Homo sapiens: one gene and its partner. The protein of the gene in region 1 purifies or fractionates together with the protein of each later gene. This does not show direct contact. Each region holds a gene or a part of one and is shown on either strand. Other genes may lie near its edges. The genes, in order: SSX7 and DHX32.

The links.
Region 2: the proteins of SSX7 (region 1) and DHX32 purify together in Homo sapiens (affinity purification with mass spectrometry; one large-scale study listed by BioGRID and IntAct). This does not show direct contact.

What each region holds. Positions count from the first base shown.
Region 1 is NC_000023.11:52,648,205-52,652,027, reverse strand, and holds part of SSX7 (protein SSX7), read left to right. Parts: intron 1-1,625; coding exon 1,626-1,675; intron 1,676-3,631; coding exon 3,632-3,767; intron 3,768-3,823.
Region 2 is NC_000010.11:125,839,793-125,843,615, reverse strand, and holds part of DHX32 (putative pre-mRNA-splicing factor ATP-dependent RNA helicase DHX32), read left to right. Parts: intron 1-813; exon of another isoform or gene 814-1,681; coding exon 1,682-1,873; exon of another isoform or gene 1,874-2,256; coding exon of another isoform or gene 2,257-2,361; intron 2,362-2,619; coding exon 2,620-2,769; intron 2,770-3,823. Other genes in the region: BCCIP (BRCA2 and CDKN1A-interacting protein), read right to left, coding at 2,286-2,361.

The DNA of each region.
Region 1 (3,823 bases):
AATGTATACAAACATGAATGTGAATAAAAAGCCATCAAATTGAGGTGACTGGCTGTAAGTGGAGGAGGGAGGGCGGGCAGGGATTGCTGAGTGCTGCACAGACAGCTTCAGCTGTGACTTGTTGATAGTGTGTTTTGTTTGTTTTTGTTTTTGAGATGGAGTTTCACTCTTCTCGGCCAGGGTAGAGTGCAATAAGGCAATCTCAGCTCACTCCAACTTTCACCTCCTGGGTTCAAGTGATTCTCCTGCCTCAGCCTCCGGAGTAGCTGGGGTTACGGGTGCCCGCCCCCACACCCAGCTCATTTTTTATTTTTGGTAGAGACGGGGTTTTACCATGTTGACCAGGCTGGTCTCAAACTTCCTGACCTCAGGTGATCCACCTGCCTCAGCCTCCCAAAGTGCTGGGATTACAAGTGTGAGCTACCATGCCCGGCCTGTTTGTAGTTTTTCTAATATTGTGAATAAATAAATCAAACCTAGCATAGCTGTGGGGTAATGTTGAGATCCGACTGGACTCAATATTATTCCTCATACTTTTCTGTGTGTTTGAAATATTTCTTTTTTAGATGACATGTTGTTCTTCCTAAGCACCATTAATGAATCAAAGGACTGCTAAAAAAATGTTACAAGAGAAAAAAAGAAGAAAGAAAATGTTACAACTGTAGATTCGCCAAAAACTTCCAGAGTTTGTCTCATTAACAGCATGTAGGTATTGGATAGGTATCTTAGGAGTGAGGATGATGAACACATTATGTAATAAAGATCGCTGTTTCTCTGTATTTTATCAGAGCCAAATAGTCTTTTCATTCCCAAAGAACCCTGATTCTCCGTGATGAGCTTGGAAGAGAGTTTGAAAGAGTGATCCCTCATCCAACACACAGAGAGAGCTTTCCCACTTGCCAGAGAGCAGAGATAACATAGGGTGAAAAAAAGACAGGTTCTTCGGTAGAGATCTTTGTACGTTTTGGGAATATAAAGGGGTCACATATGTGTTTCCTTGCTCTTCTGCTCTGACAACACAATTATAAGACAAGGTCAGAACGTCCAAACTGTCTCCAATAGACCTATTACTCCCCAACTAAAAAGGCCAGATTCTAAAATCTCCCACGATCACTGTAAGAGATCTGAAAATCCAGTGCTTGGGTGTCTGCCAAGATTTTGACATTAAAGGACTGTCTTTATACTGAAAATATCTCAGAGCCACTGGACTAAATCATCCATGGTTCATCACACATTTAACAGCTTAATTCACATACCATAAGATTCACCCATTTGAAGTGTGCAATGATTTTCAGTTGTTGCACATCTTGAGTGGATACAGTTCAGATTCCTAACCAATCAATTTAATTATTTGGAAAAAAATAAAAGATATGTAAAGGAATAAGATGAGACTGTGATGGGGTTTAGTCCCCATTTGATAAACCATGAGATGGAAAATTCTGAATTGATGCCACAGATAAATGAATCAACCATGACTAAACATAATTCAGAAGCAAAACTGAAATAACTCCTCAACAATGAGTGGACTCATAACACTCTGCTGCAGAATACCCTGATGCTACAGAAGTCTCTAGAGTTTGGAAATCTTTACCAACAAAGAAAAATTCTGATATATTCTCTTTCAGTTGAACGTCCTCAGATGACTTTTTGCAGGCTCCAGAGAATCTTCCCGAAGGTGAGTGTCTCTCAGATCTAAAGGACCAGAGAACCTTTGTCCCTCCATGGATGCAAACACTGGTAAGAGTGGGAGAATATAAAAAATGCCCTCACTGCCTCCTTCTCCCCATGTCTATCACAACACCTGATGTAGCACCAACAGCTTAATAATACTAACAGTTGTGATCCTTAATACATCTTTTGTTTTCATAGTGATGCCAGATACTATTTTAAGCAGTTCACATGGATTAATGTATTTAATCCTTAAGAAGACCTGTATGACTTTGTTTCTATTATTATCTCCAAATAATAATGAGTCACACACTTCGGTTGTCGTCCATATAAAAGCCATGTGACTTGGCACAAGTCTTCTAAGTTCTCTGAGCTCCAGATTCCTGGTCCATGAAATGGAAGTAAAGAATCGTAGTTATCAGCAACATAATAATAAAATGAGGCTATTGGGGTATAGATATGTTAAATAATTTTCCTGGGGCACAGTGGCAGTGGTAGTCTAATCCAGAGCTCCAAGCCATTTAAAGCTCATTCACGTTTGCATTTGTTTATGAAGTTCAGATGTTGCTCACTAGGGCTTCACCCCATAGGGCCTGCTGGTGCTTCCATTGAGACACCCATTCTCGCAATAGGAAAGACCAGCTGGCCTCTGCTCTGTTACTGGGACCACTTGCATGGCTTAGGAATCGTTTTGACTGTTGGCCCCTCCCTACTGTGAGCTCCTTGAGGACCTTGTCTGCACCTGGGGCATCCCAGAAGCCCCCATCCCAGCCCAGGGGATCCCTCGGAGGCCCCTGAATGAGTGACCCCACAAGTGCAGATTCAACTCTGGTTTAGAGGGTAAAGGGATCTGGGAGTTGGGTTGCTAGTGTGGAGACCGAATTGAAGGAAGGATCATGAAAGGTATTAATTGTTATTATTACTGCATTTAAACAGTGTTTACAAGCTCAGAGAGGACTTTCCCGTAGACTATTTTACATGTATTGTTCACTATCTCATAAGCAAGGAAGCTGAATAAAAAGTAGATTAAGAGCGGGGCACGGTGGCTAGCGACTGTAATCCCAGCACTTTGGGAGGCTGAGGTGGATGGATCACTAGGTCAAGAGGTCAAGACCATCCTGCCCAACATGGTAAAACCTCATCTCTATTAAAAATACAAAACTTAGCGGGGCGTGGTAGCGCCTGCCTGCAGTCCCAGATACTCTGGAGGCTGTTGCATGAGTCACTTAAACACAGGAGTTGGATGTTGCAGTGAGCTGAGATCGTGCCACTGCACTGCAGCCTGGTGACAGAGTGAGACTCTGTCTCAAAACAAAACAACAAAAAAAAAAGTAGCTTAAGATTGTTGGTCAGTGACACATCCCAATGCAACCAGAATTGGTATGGGTACCACCTCACTGAATTCCACATTCAGTGTTGGTGCCTCGGTAGGGTGGTATGCCAGATCTGGTACTGCTTTCTTCGCTGCCTAGATTAATTTTAGCAAACCATTTCTTTACCTCTCCCTTCCCTGTATTAATCTCCCCACACCATCTTTCCCAGCAGTGTTTTGTCCCCTCTCTATGTTTTTACATTTACTCTCCCAGCAGCTAAGAGCTTATATGAGATCCCTTGTATTTCATAGAAGCTCTTCCTTTTGTAGACCTTGTGAATTTTAAAAATGCTATCCTTCTTCCAATCTTTTGTATACCAAACTCTCAATTGCATGGAGATTTTTACTGTTTGCAAGAATGTCAGTCTTAAAGAGTGTGAAGATAAGCATTCTAGCCCTGGAAACGATATTCACATAGGCCATTCCTTTCCCGTCTAACTTCCCAGGTTTCTCCTAATTTAGGCATGTGTAACTCTCCCAGCATTGTTGAGAACATTGATTAAGGTAATGCATGTGAAGACGCTTTGTAAGCTCTAAAGCACTATAGAAATGTCACTGATTCTGTTTATCTGTGACCTTCACATTATAAAGATCATGCCCAAGAAGCCAGCAGAGGAAGGAAATGATTCGAAGGGAGTGCCAGAAGCATCTGGCTCACAGAACGATGGGAAACACCTGTGCCCTCCAGGAAAACCAAGTACCTCTGAGAAGATTAACAAGACATCCGGTAAGAGGAAAGAATTCGGGAACAAACCCTCTGGCTTCCGTGGCTATGTTCAGGTG
Region 2 (3,823 bases), on another chromosome or scaffold:
TTTTGAGACGGAGTCTCGCTCTGTCGCCCAGGCTGGAGTGCAGTGGTGCCATCTCGGCTCACTACAAGCTCCACTTCCTGGGTTCACGCCATTCTCCTGCCTCAACCTCCCGAGTAGCTGGGACCACAGGCGCCTGCCACCACGCCCGGCTAATTTTTTGTATTTTTTTAGTTGAGACGGGGTTTCACCGTGTTAGCCAGGATGGTCTCAATCTCCTGACCTGGTGATCCTCCCGCCTCGGCCTCCCAAAGTGAGGTTTTTGAGCTACTCAGTTTGCCTGAAATTTAGACATAGAGCTTAATGATCAAAGTTTAGACAGCACATAAGAAAATTTTTACCATATGTTACTTTGAACTCCCAGGAGCAGACAGGTTCAAGCGCTTCTTAGGGCCCCAGAGTCTTCAGCCCCTGCCCACCTTGCACTTACTGGAACTAAAACAAAACCAACCTAGTGGCTCATAAATCCTGCAGTTTTGGGGTATAACAATACAGCAGCTTTCTATTATGGGATTTGCTTCATTGTGTGACCTGTATTGCTATACCAGGAACCAGAAGGGTGGACAAAACACATGTATTTATTTAATAAATATTAGGTTGGTGCAAAAATAATTGTGGTTTTTGCCATTGAAAGTAATGGCAAAAACCGCAATTACTTTTGCACCAATCTATATATAGCCTTATTCCACAAAGAGAATATATTTCTTTAAATAAATGGATTTTTAAAAACTTTGGTAAAGACTGAGCATATATAATACCACATCATTATCGATGTTACATAAACTTAAAAGAAATAAAGAGATGGAGAGAATCAGCTTGCTATCTTTATTTCTTTATTTGCACTGGGAAATAACATCTTTGTCTACTATTTCTAGCATCTGAGATCCAGGTCAGTTGTGATTAATTTTTCTCTGTATTATGCAATGTATTTTCCTGCTTTTCATGCCTCTCTACTGGATGCTAGACATTGTACATTTTACCTTCTTGGGCACTGAATATTTTTGTAGTCCCAGAGGTACTTTTGAGCTTTGTCCTAGGATGCAGTGTGATCCTTTCAGGTCCTGCTGTATAGCTGTGTCAGGTGGCAGTGCCCATCTAGGGTTTCTCACTTGTGTTTTCTACCCAGTGCCCCATAAATCATGAGGTTTTCCAGCTAGGGTGGTGGGAACAGGCCCTACCCTAGGTCCTGTGTCAGCACCACTGTTCCTTCTAATCTTCTCACATGGCTCTTTCTCTGGCCTGAGGTGGTTCCTTACACACATGCGCTGATCAGTAGGGCTGTGCTGCCTAGTTGAGGGAGCTCCCTCTGGCCCCCGACTTAGATCTGTGTGTCTCTCTCCAGTACTGTGACCGCGAGTTCCGGCCACCTTAGTCTCCCTGGATCCCTGGCATTGTTTTCCTACTGCAGGGAGGCTGGCAGGCTCCACCTGGGTTCCCCCCGCATGCACACTGCAGCTGGGACCCTCCTCGGAGCATGAGCTGGACAATCACAGGGCTCCCCTCCTGAGTTTGCCCTCTCAAGAATCACTATCCTTCACTCCCTGGTATTTGGTGGCTTGCAAACCGTTGTTTCACATATTTTGTCCATTGTTTGCTTGTTTCATGCAGGAGGGAAAAGTCCAGTACCTGTTTCTCCATCTTAGCCATATGAGACTCTTAAATTATTATTTTTTTCCTTTCCTAGCACCAGAAAGTTTGATGCAGGCATTGGAAGACTTAGATTATCTGGCAGCACTGGATAATGATGGAAATCTTTCTGAATTTGGAATCATCATGTCAGAGTTTCCTCTTGATCCACAACTCTCGAAGTCTATCTTAGCGTCCTGTGAATTTGACTGTGTAGATGAAGTGCTAACAATCGCAGCCATGGTAACAGGTATCCTTAATGACTATTCCTTTTCTTTTTTTGCAAATCTGCACTAGGTATAGATTTAGATCGGATCCATTTGAAATTATATTTTGAGGAGCACAGAGCAGAGATAGTGATCAACTCATTTAACCTTTTGAAATGATAGTGAGGTATTTTAATAGGTTAGAAAAGGAAAATTTTCTTAATATGAAAAATTATCTTAAGAAAACTAACTCAAAGTTCAGCAAATTTATACATCAGATGTATGAAAACATACTAGATTTCTTTTGCTGAAATAATCAGTGCAGATGAAGAAAATGTGTCACTAGAGGTGTTTTTCCCCAAATAATGTTGTGTGCCTGTTTTTTATTTCCTATTGGCTTCATTCATCCTGGCTTGTATGTTTTAATTTATTCTAATACTGGGGGAACAGACCAACCATTGTGCTGTATCGGAACTGGTTCCAATCCTCTTCTTGTGTCTGGACCTCCAAGCACCTCAGGTTTTCCCTGCTCCTGCCGGAATAGAAGCAGGATATTAACCATATTCAGTTGACCTTAGAAAAGCAAACACACACACACAAAAGGAGAGGGAGAATTAGGATGACTCACTCTAAATTTCTGGGATTTCTAAGTAAACAAGAATAACATATTTATTCAGAGTACCAAGACAGGAGCCATGCCACTAACAGTCGTGACCCCTCCCCTCTGCATGTTAGGCTAAGATAAAATGTCTTCATTATTGCTAACCATGTGACCTTTTTCATTTTGAAGCTCCAAATTGCTTTTCACATGTGCCACATGGAGCTGAAGAGGCTGCCTTGACTTGTTGGAAGACATTTTTACATCCCGAAGGAGATCACTTTACCCTCATCAGCATTTACAAGGCTTACCAAGACACAACTCTGAATTCTAGCAGTGAGTGTAAGTGAATGCTCAGAAACTACCTATTAATTCCACCTTCCTTTCCCTAGATAAGTCTGAGTCCTTATTAGTTATTCATCAAACATTCTTCGCCAGCCCTACTGGCCACTTGAATGCAATGGCACTTGAGGCCCTAAACGCACCCACAGGCATCTGCAGAGTGGGAGATGCTCAGTCCCCCTGCTCCCACGGAGCTCTGGTGTGCCACCATGGCGGGCCTGTACTTCCAGAGCTCCAGGACTCCACTCAGCCAGCCTTCAGAGCAAGCTTGCTTGGGGCATGGTGACGGGGGACACAGACTCGTACATGGGTCTTTGGAGGAAGACAAGAACAGCCACCTCTACGTGCCCACTGTCAGAGTTGTGCTGTGCACCTTCCGTATCCTGGCACATTCACCACGTGCATGCAGAGAGGCTGCAGAGCTCCAGATACTAGTGCAGAATAGGTAGGCTGGGGTGCTGAGGGGAGGCTGCAGAGTTGCTGACGGAGCTTGATAGAGGAGAGCAGAGGGTGTCCAGAGAAGAGAATGGCGCATGTCAAAGCAAAGCCACAAAGTCCTTTGTATGCCTGAAGGGCAGTGGGTAGCTTACCTGTCACAGGAAGGTACTCAGAAGTCAACTGGAAGCTGCTATGCAGACAGAAACAAGAGGAGGGGGCAAACAGGGCAAAGCAGCATAGCAGAGGCTAGAGCCACCCATAAAGGGCAGCCAGTAAGGTCCCTCCCTGACATTTTCCATGAAGCATCTTTTACCTCCTTTGTTCTGAAAGATGGTGTGAAAATATGTGAAGTAGTGTGAAAAATATGACAGCAATTTGAAAGACAGAATTGTATAAAGAACAGGGAGTTAGTGTTTCAAAGCTGAGAAGAAAAAGTTGTCAGTGGAGCCAGCAGGTACACAGGAATCTGGTGGCACCTTTTGAGGGCATGCTGAATGGGTGACACTAAGTACATGCTGTGGTTGCTCCGAGCAGCATGAGTGGACAGGACAGGGTAAATGAGGGTCTTCTGTCCATGGTGCCATGGCCATGTACATTCCCAGGTCCATCTTAAGTA